2 separate regions of the Homo sapiens genome follow, and region 2 is linked to region 1. A link means that fine-mapping ties the variant in region 1 to the expression of a gene that starts in the linked region. Tissue or cell type: esophagus mucosa. Region 1 holds a variant in brackets; the other region holds the start of a gene. All regions are shown on one strand. Distances are from middle to middle.

Region 1 (8,182 bases):
ATTATCATTACCTTACAGAGAAGGAATGGAAATGGAAAGACACATGCTTCACTATCTGTGGTACCTTCTCATGCCTCACTGAAAGAACTTACTGTCTCCCATGTCAAAGATATAGTGTACAAAGGTAGCAGCAGAGGGGTTCACTTATTCACTCAACATGTGTTCATTTAGAAAAGTAGGAATTGGTTATCTGTTCTGATTTGAGTATCATGCCAGGTCATCACCTGGGCTCACAGTCTAGTGAGATAGAAAAATAAACAATGTGAAAAGGGCCGTGATAAAGGGAAGCACAGGCTGCAGGAAATGCTGAATTTCTGGGCATCTCTCTCAGGAGATGCCATAAGCTGGGAGATTTTTTAATTGACTTGCAGCAACTTTGTGAGGAAGCCCACAAGTGGTGAGCAGAGAAGAAGGTAGATGGAAAGACCTTTTGTGACTCATGGCTGCTATCATGATGCTGTCCGGACAGCTCCAAGAGGCCCCCCATTCCGTGTGTATAGGTGTTCCTCAAATAACAGGGTGGTTCTGACATGCAAAAGGTTCTTCTTTGATCACCGAAGGCTGGAAAACCTCATTCTCTGGAGTCAGTGTGTATCAGTCAAAATAGGCTAGGTTATGCTGTGGTAACAAACAACTCCCCAGATATCAGTGGGTTAACACAGCAGAAGTTTATCTCATGTGGGCTGGTCAGAGTTACGCTCATTATAGTCACTCAGGGACTGAGGCTGATAGATGCTTCACCTCTACACATTCTTCCAAAATTCCCAAAGAGAGAAAAATGGGATATGGTAACACATGTTGTTTCTTTTTTTTTTTTTTTTTTTGAGATGGAGTCTGGCTCTGTCACCCAGGCTGGAGTGCAGTGGCACCATCTCAGCTTACTGCAAGCTCTGCCTCCCGGGTTCACGCCATTCTCCTGCCTCAGCCTCCTGAGTAGCTGGGAATAAAGGCGCTCACCACCACGACCAGCTAATTTTTTCTGTATTTTTAGTAGAGATGGGGTTTCGCCATGTTAGCCAGGATGGTCTCGATCTCCTGACCTTGTGATCTGCTCGCCTTGGCCTCCCAGAGTGCTGGGATTACAGGCATGAGCCACTGTGCCTGGCCCCGCATGCTGTTTCTTAAAGACTTCCACCTGTAAGTCATTTACTACACTCCCACTCACATTTCATTGCCTAAAGCAAGTCCCATGGTCATGTCTAACTTTCAAGAGAGCAGGGAAGTATAATTCTACCATGTGTTGGGAAAGAGAGAAGAATTGGAATTTCTGTGAATATCCCTAAAACTAGCAGTGTTGTAAGAGTCTCCAGTTAAGTCCTCATCTTTTGGGGTTTCACACTGGTCTGTGAGCTCCTGGAGGACAAGATATACTGTTTGCATCTCTCTATTCCAAGGGCCTTGCACAATGCCTGGCATGGAATAGACTCTCAGTAGATGCCTGTTGGGTAAGTTAATAAGTGAAAGGACAAAGACTTTTTCCTAAAAGAAGAATCCCCCCACACCTGTGACCGTAAAAGTCTATACACCTTTCATATTTTTAAACTTGGCTTCAGGATCTGAGCTCCATACCTATGGTGCTCTTCTAAAATAGTTAGAAAGACACCTTGCCAGCACTTTGGGAGGCCGAGGTGGGCGGATCACGAGATCAGGAGATTGAGAACATCCTGGCTAACACGGTAAAACCCCGTCTCTACTAAAAATACAAAAAATTAGCAGGGCATGGTGGCAGGGGCCTGTAGTCTCAGCTACTTGGGAGGCTGAGGCAGGAGAATGGCGTGAACCTGGGAGGCGGAGCTGGCAGTGAGCTGAGATCACGCCACTGCACTCCAGCCTGGGCGACAGAGCGAGACTCCGTCTCCAAAAAAAGAGAGAGACACCCTGATGACTTACCCAGTCCTGCTAGGAGACACAAGCTCAAGTAACTGTATTTTGAGCCTCACTGATGAATTTTGGGAATACAACCAGTCCAGCCCCTTGTGTTCAAGTCTAAGGGAGAGGCAGGGAAAAGGTGGGCAAGCAACACAACCCTTCCAAGTGATGAGCAGAGCACAGCCCCAGAAGAGCACCAAGGCTCCCAGATTATACTCCAAACATTGAGGAAAGTCAGTGGTGAAATCTGAATACAGGACCCTGGCTCTGTGTGACTAGACACCCTTAGAAACGCTCCTGGAATGAGATACTCTGATTTCCAAAGTAGCAATGCCAATGCCAAGTTTCTGGGCCTGGAGTAAAGGCCACAAAATCAAATAATATAGCTGCAAATTTAGAAGACAGCTAAGTCACTGGATGACTGCTAGATCATATCTACAGTGGCCACAAAAGTCACAAGAACAAGATGGGTAACAAACGGGCTATAATTTGGTATACTACTCATTCATCATTGTCCTTCATGTTCCAGCATCTGGCAGTGATTTCTATCTTTGTTGTGCTGCTGTAGACAAAAAGATTAGTGCATGACCATGGGTATGTACGCAATAAGACTGACAAAAACCTGTGTCTTGGGAGAAAGAACAGCATCACTCTGCTGTGTGCAGAGTGTAAACCTGAAGTGAGGCACAGGAGCCAAGCTGTCTCCCTTTGGTTATGTTTGTGGTGGGGTTGGCATACATGGGACAAATAACGCATGGCCTTTTCTCTGAGAGGAGAAATCTGGGGCTACCCTAGACTGAAAGATCGGGCAATTTATGGTCATCTTTTGCTGCTACCAGGGGCTGCAGGCTTCACCGGTGTAAGTAGCTTGTCTGTCTGCACACAGGTCTGCTGTGCACCTCTCAGGGGTTGGCTAATCATGGCATCTGAAGTGGCAATCTGAAGTGCATGGGAACTGTTTAGGGTGGTAAGAGGATCAAGGCGGTGCACAAAGAGATGTGTGTAGTGATTTTCTTCCAACCAGTTTTCCCAAGCTGGGTCCGAGGGCGCTGGGAGTCTGCAACCTGAGAATGGGGGCATGTGTCCCTGGGGCAGTATCCCCCATCTTTCATCCAACAGGCTTGGCCGGGCTGCTTGGGCTAACTCCTGAGTGGCTTCCTTTTCGTATTCCTTATGGTCAGAGAGTAAAGATACTAAATGGACATTAGATCATTGGAGAACAGCAACCTGTGACTGAGGGGTCACCTACAAAATCCTACCTGTTGCAACAAAAGCAATGTTAACTTCCTAACTTGATGAGCTCTCAGGATCTTAGAAGAAAATGAGGGTTTCAATTTCTTCTGAAGAAGGATAATTTTGTTAAATTGATTTGCTTTGAATGAGCCCTTGGGGATAATAGAGACTCTCATCCCAAACTAATTTATGAATTTGATACAATAGCTCCTTCTTTACTTTTTCTGAAAAGAGTAAGATAGTAAATTTTTTAGGCTTTGTCAACCACATACGGCCTCCGTGTGCATTCCTCCTCCTTCTTTTCTTCTTCTTTCTCCTTCTCTTCCTCTTATTTCCTTCTCTAGCACCTTATCTTCTTCTGATCTATTGAAAATGTGAAAACCATTCTTAGCTCAAGGATCATCCAGAACAGGCCTTGGGGCCTGGCGCGGTGGCTCACGCCTGTAATCCCAGCACTTTGGGAGGCCGAGACGGATGGATCACGAGGTCAGGAGATCGAGACCATCCTGGCGAACACAGTGAAAACCCGTCTCTACTAAAAATACAAAAAATTACCCGGGCATGGTGGCGGGTGCCTGTAGTCCCAGCTACTCGGGTGGCTGAGGTAGGAGAATGGCGTGAACCCAGGAGGCGGAGCTTGCAGTGAGCCGAGATCGTGCCACTGCACTCTAGCCTGGGCAACAGAGCAAGACTCTGTCCCAAAAAAAAAAAAAAAAAAGAACAGGCCTTGGGCTAGATTTGGTCTTATAAGCCTTAGTTTGCTGGCCCATGCTTTACAGCGAAATAAAAAAAAAATTCTCTAAGCACCATGGCACTTACCAAAGGTTAAGCTAAGTGGGACCATGGCAGTTAAGTTTGTGGCTCTTAACACATTTATATAGGTCAAGCGAGTTTGAGAGGAGCTGACAACTCAAAAGTTCTTCTCATTCCGTCTAACAGGAAGAACATGAAATCCTACCAGAGATACTTGTTTCTGCAGGTTGAGGCTTACACATCCAGGGGTTCCTAGTTAAAAGATCAATAGTCTGTGGAGATTACAGTTCAATTCTCTACATGGGTTTCCCACATGAAGAGGTGAGTTAAAACAGAGTGAATTGCAAGACTCGTAGGTTGAGATGCCTTCTAGACAAAGGTAAAAATCATGAGTGTCTGGTTTAGAGAGGAGGAGCTAGGAAAATAGGTCAATTACAACTTTCATGTTCCCATGTTCCTGCCACCACCAGGGTCAACCTTGGAATTCAGTGTGTGGTAAACACACCAAGATAGATGTGCAGGCCTCTGGGACTCTTGTGGGTGGAGCCCTGCTTCCCCAGCCCACAGAGGCTGCCAGCCTATCAGAGGAGCCCATAATGAGTAAGGGGCATGCATGACAAGAGAAAGGGTGGAGCCAGCACTGGGATTGGGGAGCTGGGTATGGTAGTTCTTTGGCAGGCATGATTTGTGTGTGACATGC[C/A]CGGGACTTGATAGTTCCCATAACCCCTGACAGAGAGTATGACTAATAGGATAGGTAGACAACTCAAAGGAAGGGTGTGTTAGTTTCCCAGGGAGAGAATGTGGAGTTCATCATCTGTGGACTCTAGCAATGCCTCTAGCCAGAGTCAGAGGACAAGGTATGGACTGGGAGTGTGGCCTCACCCTCTGGCGACTAACATCACAGTGCTTTTTTAAATATTTGAAAACTTAGGTCCCCCCTACCCACCTTGGGAATAGGAACGGAAAAGGGGAAGGAGGAAGAAATACTGACTGTCAGATGATCTTTACCCTAAAGGGATGAAATTTAACTAAAAGAGACTTTTAAACCAAAGGATGCTGAATTACTGTCAGTCGATAAATTTAAATTCCCCCACCCTCTCCCCACACCTCCATCACCAGGAATAGAGTCTTAAAAGTGGAAAATAAAGTTCTCTCCATATATGTCCACCCCCATCTGAATCATACTTTGATCTCCCTCTATGTATTAAACAAACATTTATTTCCAACATGTGCCAGACACTGCCTTCCCTGGGGATACCCTGGAGAACAAGCCTGGCGTGATCTCAGCCCTCCTGGAGCCAGAAGTCTCCCTCTGGGCCTGGCTGTCATTGGAAAGGCAGTGGTCATCCCATTCACCCTGTACATGGGCCTTAAAGGAACCTACACTCTCTCTTCCACCATCACACAGCTCAAGCTGTCAGAGGCAGGCTCTTCATTTTCTCCTTCCAATCTTAGCACAACTTAGCTCCAGTCAGTAATAAACGCAGATGGCATCACATAGGTAGTTTCAGCCATGGCCTGTTGGTCACTGCATGGTTGCTTGATCTTCTCTCATCCCTTTAGAATTCAGAATGCTGGTAGGAAGACAGCTTCCTCCTGTCACTCTGACTGTCCTCCTTCCCAAAAAGTCACTTGTGTAGTACCGCCCACTCAAGCCAGATTTTTGAGTGCTATTATAACCACTTTAGATTGTACCAATGGGCTGTCAGATCCTTGATTCCAGCTTCTAAGTCTCTCCCATATGCATATTTTCCTGGCCATTCCCACAGACACTGCCCACAATAGTCTCCTATTTGTTCCTCTGTCTCAGCACTGCCCCAACTGAAATCTGTCGGCCATGCTGGTAGCAGAATGCTTTTGTAGAAAATGCAATTCTAATAATGTTCCTCTTTTTTTTTTTTTAAAAGCATTTAATGGTCCTCTATTGCCTCTATTGTCTTCTCTTCATTAGACAACCCCAACGGGAACTTCATCCTAGATGTGGAGTTCTTGCTGCTCCCCATTTGGATGAAGCTGCTTGAGTCTTCAGAGCTTGAGCTTGGCTTACCCCGCTGTGCTGTGAGATTCCTATTCATTCTTCAAGTCTCCTTTTCCGTCACTTTGCTGAAGTCCTCAGAGGGACCCACATCCTCTTCCCCATCATCACACAGCTTGAGCTCTTAGAGGCAGGCTTTTCATTTTCTAGGAATCCCCTTTTCAAGCTTCACATAGCAATTTATGTTGCTAGAGCACTTACCATACTGGAGGGTCATTGTTTTTTAGTGTATCTCTCCCCTTGGACATCCATTCCTTCATTTGTTCTTTCAATTAATATTTGTTGAGGATGTACTATGTGCTAGGCATTGAGAAAACACAGTCCTAGTCTTTAAGGAGCTAATATTTTAGCAAAAATGGCACGTAATAAATTTATAAGGCACCATAGACTGAACATTTTGGGTCAGGGGTGATCTGCTATGGTCCAAATGTTTGTGCTTCCCCAAAGTTCATATGCTGAAACCTAATTCCCAATGTAATGTCATTAAGAGGGGGGGTCTTTGGGGGGTGATTAGGTCATGACGGTGAATACCAGATGAATGGGATTGGTGCCCTTATAAAGGAGGCCTGAGGGAGCTTTCTTACCCTTTCCATTTTGTGAGGGCACAGCAAGAAAGCACCATCTATGAAGCAGAGTGGGCTCCCATCAAATCTGTTGGCATCTTGATCTTGGACTTCCCAGCCTCCAGAACTGCAAGAAGTACATTTCTGTTGTTTATAAATTACCCATTCTAAGGTATTTTGTTATAGCAACCCAAATGGACTAAAGCAGGATCTTATTCATCTTTATGTCCCTGGTACTTAGCACATGCTTGGCACACATGTGTTCTCAATAATGCTTGTGAATGAATGAATGTATGTATGAAGCAGAATGTTATGGTATTGGCTGCACAAGAATGTAGAGAAATGCCTTTGATATTATTTGGTTTTGGTTCATCTAAAATTGTCTCCTTTTCTCAAAATGCTCTTCCATCTTCACTAGTAGAATTCTCACTTATATTCCCTTGCAGACTTTTTATCAAGTTCACCTTCTTTCCCCTTCCCTTGTGTCTCATTTTCTCGTCATTGTCCTTTCCCCTCATGACATTTGCTTCCTGGGAGATTTCTTATTTTTCTCCAGTCGAAAGCAAACTGTCAGCCTTTCTGGGGGAAAGAGTGGTGTCTCCTGTTGCTCTTTCCCTCTTATTTTGTAAGGATCAGATAGTCCTCATTATCACACACAATAGTATACTCACAACCAAGGTGGGGCAGAGCCACACTACTCTCATGTAACAGAATCTCATGAATTTCTGTTTCTCCAAAAGGCTCAGAGAAGACAAACATGATATTCACACACAGAGACTCACATGTCCCCCCAGATGGGAAATCTCATGGGTACATGTGCATGACAGCACATAGCCATGTGGAGTGGCCCACAGAGCCACAGTGCCACCCCCAGACCCTGGGACACACAGAAGCAGAATTCTGTCCGAGCCTCCTTTCTCCAGTCTCAGACTTCTCTGCAGCCTCCAGGGGCTTGCTAGTCTCCCTTCTCAACTTCAGACCTTCTTTGAACCCTCTCTTCGGTTTTCTCTCCCGATTCTTGGGTCAATAATCCTTCTTCATCGGCAAGGTCCATACTGAGATAAAATCCATATCTGCTGATCCTTTTAACTGAGCTCTGTCACCCACCATTTCTTAAAAGTTGACTATGCACATCCCTACTCTGACACTGTGCCTTCCTATACACCTGTGAGGCCCCTTATCACTGTGGTCACCCACCCTACACTGTGGAGATCCTATACTGAGAGCAGGACACAGTTTTATAGCCCCATCTCGGCTGTAAAAATGGACACATGACTTTTCTCAAGACATAGAGCTATGAATAGTTACTCCAGAAGTTTTCAGATAGGAGTAGAGAAAGATGGCTAATCCTTTAAAAAATGATCTATTGGTAAACTTCATGTAAATATAATGTCCCCACAGGCATCTTGACTCAGTCAGAATGGGCTAGGTTATGTTGTGGTGGCAAACCCTCCCCAAATCTCAGTGGCTTACAGTAGCAAAGGTTTCTTTCTTACTCATTCTACTTGCTCACCACAGATTGACGATGATATGCTCCAAACCATCTCCACTCTAGGGCCCAAGCCAACAGAGAAGCCTCTGGGTGGAACACTGAAAACCTCAGAGTAAAGAAAAGAGAGATCTTGGCAAAGCATAAGCCAGCTGTTGAAACTTCCCCCATGTTCGCTCACGTTTCATTAGCCAAAACAAAGGCACATGACCAAACCTGGTGGACATCCTGGGTGAGAAA
Region 2 (8,182 bases), 37 kb after region 1:
ATACAGGAATGCTATGTGTAATAATCACATCAGGGAAAATGGGGTGCCCATCACCTCAAGGATTTATCATTTGTTTAAGCCAGCATCTACTTTACAATTCCTCATCTCCCAAGGCTACATAATTACAGTGAGAACTTTAAGAAATCCACGTTTACGTGTGTTCTTTTGGCTTAAATCCCCTTCCTCAGCAAAAAGGCAAAGAGGGCACAGCTGTTTGCCTTCAGCACTCTCCTCTCTATATCCAACCACATTTAGGGCAGCTTTCCATGGCTTTTAAAATTCCTTTCTCTTTTCGGTCTGCTCCTTTATATCCTCATTGCCGTATAGAAATAAATATGAGGCAGAGTCCTATGCTTTTACAATTCCAAGGAAACCTACAGAGCGAGGCTGTGGAAACTGATTTTCCACTTTACCGGGGCATTATCCAACATGTTGGGTGCAAACGGGCACCTTTTAGCCTTTTCTTAAATTTGCATGACCTGTAATGTCTATACAGATTATGAATGAGCCTGAGGAGTCTGCATGTCTAACTTGTCATCAGCCTGGAAAAATCAAAATGTGTAGGTAAAGTGAGCACAAGATTTGGAAAAGCAAGGTGTTTGGATGTAAGAGAATAAACTCTTAGCCCTTTTGAGCATGAGTTCCTCAGCTGCAGAACAGGATTGAGAATCCTCACCTGAATTGGCCACTCTGAAAGTGAAAGCTAGCTAGATAAAAGTGCTTTGAAAAGGTAAAGAAAGGTGATGATTTAAAGCTGGTTAATGCTGAATTATGGAGGAGCTCTTTGGAAATTCTTTTTTATCTATATAAATGACAGAAATTTAGTGTGATCCATGTGGCTAGCACCTGTCACATGTCGTCTGCTGGCATTGATGCCTCACATCTTCCTCAATTTTCTGCTTCTTTTTCTCAATTAAAGCCGTCTGTCCACTCTTCAGCCTCTGAATCCTCCAAGCAATTCTTTCCTCTAGTCTTAGTGGATTTCCCAGGGGAGGAGCTCGTGCAATCCAGCAGAATGTGTCTACGAGCGCTCTGACTCTTCCAGGGAACGATTCCTCATTCCCAAATCTGTTGCTAGAGATAAGCAAGAGATTATACATTCCTGAGACCTGGGCATTACTTGAGTATCTAGGGGAAAATCAAGAATACTAAGGGGAAAAGGAGAGAAGGACAAGAGCAGCACATTTTATTTGCATCAGGCAAAATTGGGAAGTTGCAGAGAAAATGTTGCCCTTTGACTGCATGGAGGAAGACGGAACATCAATATGAAAATGGCGCTAAAGAGGCATGGGCTTTTCATGGTGTTTTCTTACTTCAGCTGCTATTGTTCAAAGAAGGTCAGTGGATCTCAGACATTTGAAGGTGGCACCTCTCCCATGAGAGTAAGAGCCCAGCTGACATAGGCCACTGGCTACATGGACCACTACTGGGGGCTCTTAACATCACAGCACCTGTTTCCTCATCTGGAAAACAAGGGGCTGTAACTACATCTGTGGCTTCCAACTCTCCCCTACTGGGAAGAGAGAGCTTCGTCAAACCTCAACCCTCTCCCCCTAGCTCCTGTATCTTTTCTCTAGTTATTTTGTCTCTGTCATCTTAGTCTCCTCGGTGCTCTCTGCTACCTGACTGCAGCAGGATGACTTGTCCCACCCATCTGTCCCATGGAGCCAGTCCTGAGCCTAGATTGAGTGGGTCCTCACCTCCATTGTGTGATATAGGCTGTATGTGTGTGTGCATGTGTGTGTTGGGGGAGGCTGAAATGACTTCTTTCCCTAAATGTCTCTCCCATGCCAAAAGTTTTTCCATTGATTATTTATTTTTATCTCTTTATAAGACAATTTTTTAAAATATCAGAAACAGCAGGAGCAATCATATGGGTCTAATCAGTCATTGACGCTTTCGAGTCTATAAATCTTTCCTTGTAGCAGGTTCTGAGGAAGGTAGGGGGAGATTGAAGGAAAACAACCCCTTCATATTTTAGTCCAAAGCTGTTGTTCATAGGTTATTCATCTGGTGGCCCAGGTGCTGACACAGTGACGTGCTTTCATGCCAGTTCCACAGCCAAATTGCAACCATGTGGAAGCTGGAAGCGTCTTGTCATCTCAGAATTGGGCACATCCAGTGGGGTAAAATCTGAAGCCAGAGGGGCAGAACTAAGCTCACAGCATCTGTTTACTGAGTTTGGGATTAGAAGAATTTTGATTTAAATGTGCACTATCAGTAGTTGCTTGATGAAAACAATACCCAGCATTTTGTGTTTTTACTGTCCCTAAGGCAACTCTGGTCCAATGAAAGTGAGAGTCTAAAAATCCCAGGATTATAGGTAATAGGACCTACCCTTCCATATCTGTGCAGTTTATATGAGTAGAACATGATTTTAATTTTCTATTGCCCTCATCCTTGCTCTTATATCCAAATACCCAGTAGCATGATCAGGAGCAAGGGAACTAATTTTCAAATATTAGCAAAGTTATTCAAGGGAATGGACTTTCTGTGGCTGCAGTTGGCACGTCTTTTTCAGAAAGCTTGCCCGTGGCTGACAGCCTGCTTGGCACAGTTCCTCCGGAGTCCTTTGGTGATGGAGAACAGGGCTGACAGGATTCAAATGGCCAGATTCCACAGAGGCCAAGGAGGGCCACAGTCTGCAAACCAGGGGAGATTGAGGCCTGAGAAGGGCATCAGCTGATGGAAATATTCACTCTAGGAAAACGAGGTGTAGCCAAAGAGAGTCATTTAGGAGAAGCAGATTGAAAGCAGCTGTGAAAAATCCTGAAATGAGGATATGGAATAGTGCTGGCCACCTCCGCATATGCCCACATGGAAACACACTTAATCAGCAGAGCTGGGCCTATGTGGAGATGCTGAGCCGGAGGCTCCTAGGTGTTAAGCACTTTTCTATGTGTAATGTGGTGGAAACCACCCTAGACTTTTCAGCGCACCCAAAGCAATAGAATTTTAACTGGGAGGGAATTATCCAGCCAGGGACTAGTTTCTGGCTTCTTTTGGAACTCAGTGTGGTTGTATGGCTAAGCTCTCACCAACAGAATGTGAGTGGAAGTGATGTGAGCCACTCTCAGACCTGACCATGAAACTTGGCTCATAGGCTCCTCCATACCACCCCACCTCCGCCCCACCTTCCTGCTTGGCTGGAATACAAACCTTGCAGTAACCTTGTGAGCAACGTGCTGAAAATAATAGAACTAGCATCTCCTGGGTTCCTTGAAGGATGCTTGGAGTAGAAGGCCCACCACCTGGCCTGTTCTAGACTATTTACATGAAAGAGAAAAAACCTTTTACTCTTCTCAAGGCATTGCATTTTGGGTCTTCCAATTGGCACAGTTTAGACCATGTTAACTAGTATATACAATAACTGGGCAAAGTAGGTGATGTCATCATTTTATAGGCTAAGAACCTGCAGCTCTGGGAATTTAAGAGATTTATTTATTTACCCAATATCAGGATACGAATGTGGAGTCATTATTTGAACTGAAGTCTGTCAGTTTAAACATTTATCTCCCAGAAGTTCAGACCTCCAGAGCAAACAGGTAGCAACAGATGACTTGAATGAGAGAGGGATCTCTGATTTGGCTACCATGTCCACTAACTCAAGCCCAAACTCATACCACCTCTTTCCACAGCTCCAGCTGCTGCACTGCTGAACTTGATCTTCATGCTGGAAGAATATGACAGCTGGAATGGGTCCTAATAATCACCCAGCTCAGTGGTTTTCAAATTTCATTTGGCAGAAGAAACACTTCTAATGAAATCTAAAACTCAGAAGCCCTGTGTGTAAAACAGTCCAAAGCAGACCTTGTCTCTTTGAAGTGTGGGCCTGGAACCTGGCCTGTTTCCCACTCACCTCCACAGCCTCTGAGTCCCTCCAAGCAGGTCAGAGAACAACTGATCTGGGTCAGCCCTTCGTTTCAGAGGTAAGTAAATAGTGGAGCATGAAGTGTCTTCATCAGGAACACACAGAAGGTAAAAGGCAGGGTGGGAACAGGAACCCAGCCTTCTGGCTTTTGAATTTAGGAATCTTTCCATTGTACTGGTGTATTAGAGTTCTGTAGAGAAACAGAACCAATAGGAGATTAGATAGATATAATACAATGAATATACCATAATTATACAAATAATAAAGGATTGGCTCACATGAATTTGGAGGCTGAGAAGTTCCATGATATGCCATCTGCAAGCTGGAGGCCCAGGAAAGCTGGTGCCTCCAGTCCAAACCCAAAGGCTTGAGAATCAGGAGTTCTGATGTCCAAGATCAGGAGAAAGATGAATATCCCAGCTCAAGCAGCCAACAAATTTGCCCTTCCTCTTCCTTTTAGTTCTATTCAAGTCTGCAATGGATTGAATGAGGCCCACCCACATTGGTGAGGATGATCTCTTTACTAAGCACATTGATTCAAATGCTAATCTCTTTTGGAAACACCCTCACAGCCACACCTAGAAATAATGTTTTACCAGGTACCTGGGCTTCCCTTAGCCCAGTCAAGTTGACACAAAAGATTAACCATCACAACTGGATTTCCTCTTTTGAGATACCAGCCCTTGAACCAGCTGCAGATTCAAGATGCCCAGCAAAGGCAGAATGGCAGAAGGGTCAGAGTTACTTGTTATATTAACATTTTGATTTCTGTGTAACAAATAACTGTTAAGCACGTGTTTAATTGAGAAGACAACCCAAGCAGGCTAAGTGTGAGCAACAAGGCTTGTTTATTCACTTGGGTGTGAGCCGGCTGAGTCCGAAAAGAGAGTCAGCATTGAGGAATGAGGAAGAGGGGGTTTTATAGGCTGGGGTAGCAAGTGGAAAGTTACAGAAGGTTACAGCTGGGGGTTGGTCGTTATAGATTTGGAGGGATGGTTAACCGGCTGGAACAGGAACTTGCTGTTTTTCTTCTTTGCGGTCATTCTTTTGTTGCTTTGGGCCTCTTTGTTCCAGGGAGCTATCTGGAGGTATACGTGCTAGTCACAGAGTTCACTTCTGGAGGTGTACATGTTGGTCACAGAGTTCATAATGGCCTGGCGATAGTGCAGCCACACTTAGGGAGCCTAACAATTACCACAAACATCATGGCTAAAACAACACCTACTTATTATGATCTCAGATGTCTGTAGTCTGGGTGGGCTCATGCTGGGTTCTTTGCTCAGTGTCTCACAGGGCTGAAATCAAGGTGTTGGCTGAGCTAGGTTATAGTCTGGAGGCTCCGGGAAGAATCCACTTCCAAGCTTATTCAAGTTGTTAGCAGAGTTCAGTTCAGTTCCTTGTGGTTGAAGGACTGCAATTCCTGATTTTTGCTGGTTATTGACTCTTGGTCACTCCTGGCTTCTGGACACTGCTCTCTTGAGGTCATTCCCTATAACTCCCTCCATGCTACCAATAGAGAACCTCTTTCTCATCAAATCCCTCTCATATTTTATTTATCTCTCACTTCCCCTTCTGCCACTAGCTAAAGAAAGCTCTATAGCTTGTTAGGTTACACCCATCTGGACAATCTCCCTATTGCAAAGTCAACTGATTAGTAACCTTAATTACACCTGCAAATCCCTTTTGACATGCAGTATAGCATAATCATAGGAATGACATCATAGGGTTAACGGCATGGGGGCCTGCTTAGAAATCTGCCTACCACATTTGCATAGTTACAACTAACTCTAGAACACACCACCTTCTCTTGAGGCCTCTGAGAACAATGGTAACATGGTTCTCTCCTATGACCTCCTAACAGCTTTTGCCAAATTCTTTCTGCTAGCTTCTGGGTAGGATAAAACAGCCTGATTATGCATTATTTCTAATTTAACATGGTTTGTGAGGCAAAGCAGGTATTAGACTCTGTAGGGTGTGTTCCCAGCCTTAGCCCTCCCTACAGCCTATTTCTGTCCACACATAGGAAGGCAGGAGGCAGGCCTGAAATCCTGGGGCTATCAGAAAAGGTGGGGCGGCAGCGGGGAGTTCTCTGTTCCTCTGGTGGCACTCACAAAACGACGATCAGAATAATCTTCTCCCTTTGTAGATGACTCCAGAGGGGAGACAGGATTTAACCAAAGCTAACTAGCAGAACTAGTTGGAGCTCTTAGTTTGGTGTTCTTTCTGCTACTCACAGTCAATACTAGAGTCAGCTGGTTTCTCTGTTGATTCTTTGCCCTGGCTTCTAGGTGATCTCAGAAAAGCCTTCCACAGTGTCTTCAGTTTGTTTCCTGACCCTGGCCCAGCAGGTAGGATTGCTGGCTATGTTATCTAGGCCTAGGAAGCATAAGAAATTGCCTAGTTAAGGCATCATGCTGACAGAGTCTGACAGAGTACCCCAGAGAAGCTGCCTCCCACTAGCTATAGAAGACAACAGAGGTAAGAAGACAGGCAGGGCTTGAAAAGATGTTGGAGAGCAGCAAGTGGTATGGTTAAGTTCCCTGGTTTCTGTTTTTTTGGTGTGTGTGTGTGTGTGTGTGTGTGTGTGTGTGTGTGTGTGTGTGTGAAAATGGGTTTGGCTTTGCAATGTGGATCCCAAGGTCAGATCAAGGTCTGTATGTGAGACTGGAGGCTCCAAGGCTTGTGGGAGGTTTCTGGGGGCAGGACCTGAAAAGGCAGGTAGATAAGAGAGAGGATATTTTATGCTTTATGGAATATTTGCATATACGTTATCTGATTATTTTTTCAGAAGTGAGAATTAAAACAATAAAGGATAAAAGAAATAACGTGACACATAGAGCAGCCTGGTGGTCTTGAGGTTGATGCAGAACCAATTTTTTGAGTAAATCCCACCTCCCTGCATTTCCTCTGACCAACTAAGGGGCTGGTTAAGAATCTTTGCAATTACTTCTATTCCAGTGAGTCCTGGAAAATATATGCTGGCCTCTAGTGAGGGATACCTGCTACCAGTGATATCCCAGTTTTGCTGATGAGGAATTTGTTTCTAATAAGTCAGATCTCTCTGGAGATAGAGACATAAACCACAAGAAGGGGGCCACATGTAGAACTTTCCCCAGGGTCTCTTGAATTGTGTAAGGTCAGCATTGGCAACACCCTCACCCGACTAAATAACTCTGCAAGGTCCATATCTCAAACTTTCTCTTCTCCAAAAAGAATATCTTGGAGGGAAAACGTGCTGGAGAGATGGAAATGGGCCAGGACTCTAGGGCAGATGCTGGAGGAGGTGGCTGCACTGGCAATCTCTCTGAATCAGATGCTCTGAATATTCCTTTGAGTTTGGGTTGCTGGGTAGAGTAGAGGTAAAAGCAGAATTTACAGGTACAGGTTTGGGAGAGGGTAAATCACCAGAGGATGTCCAGACCTAGGGAGGCTCTTTTTGCAGCAGAGAAAGTCTCCAGATTTTTGGCTGGAGGCCATCCCAGGCCCACTGTTTTCTCTGTGAAGTCCAATATCTGGCCATTGGGCTGGCCTTCTGGAGAGGCCTTCTGGCTTAATCCAGACCTAGGGCACCCCAGTCAGAGACAGTGGGAGGCCTCTGGTGTTGTCAGGGATCTTCACTGCCAGCTTCAGTCTTCTCTCCCAGCTCTTCTGTTCCCTTCGAATGGATGCAGTTTATAATGGGCCTATTAGAGCCCTAATTGAATGGTTAACACACCAGCCATTAGCAGCTGCTAATGAGGGAATCCAGGGGATTACGGTATCAATTACCAAGTTTGACTTCTGAATGTGGCTCTGCCAACAGTGGGTTCTTATGAGAGTCTTTAGAAAGCGTGACAGAGAGGGGGAAGAGAGCCATGCACACACAGTGTGACTGTGCCCTGCCTGTACCCAAGATAAGCTCTTACAGCTGTCCACACTCATGTGACTGCACAAAACAGGTTCTGGGGCAGTTTATCCACCCATGATGGAGATAGCATTCATCCCAAACACCTGCACACCTCTCTCCCAGGTCTTTTTACCCTCCATACAACACATGTGCTTCTTTGCCCCACAGCCATTTTCTCCTTCTCTGCTCCACTGCCTTCTATAATCCATGCTAGCTTGTCTTTGGCCTTCTTTCACACTTTCAATCGAGATCATTCTCAAGTTTCCCACTGCCCACATCCTATCAGTCACTGAGCCCTTGGAATCCCATCTTTTAAACATCTCTTAATTTCATCTCTTCCTTTCCCTTTCCTTCCTTCCCTTCCCTTATTTTCTCTTCCCTTCCATTCCCTTTCCTTTCTCCATTTCTTCTTACTTTCCTTTCTT

The links. PIP is the estimated chance that this variant, and not a neighbour inherited with it, causes the effect.
Region 2: LINC01559 starts here. The variant in region 1 is fine-mapped to the expression of LINC01559 in esophagus mucosa (GTEx, PIP above 0.99).

The regions. Positions count from the first base shown.
Region 1 is chr12:13,335,215-13,343,396 of GRCh38, forward strand. No RefSeq gene overlaps it. Among named protein-coding and RNA genes, the nearest start is that of LINC01559, 37 kb to the right of the region's middle. RefSeq lists an enhancer at 4,075-5,274. The variant C/A (reference allele first, on the strand shown) is at 4,556.
Region 2 is chr12:13,372,365-13,380,546 of GRCh38, forward strand. It overlaps LINC01559 (long intergenic non-protein coding RNA 1559), which reads right to left and starts at 4,381. Exons shown (of 3, transcript NR_036555.1): 1 at 4,150-4,381; 2 at 3,860-4,061; 3 at 1-1,074. RefSeq lists an enhancer at 2,984-4,183.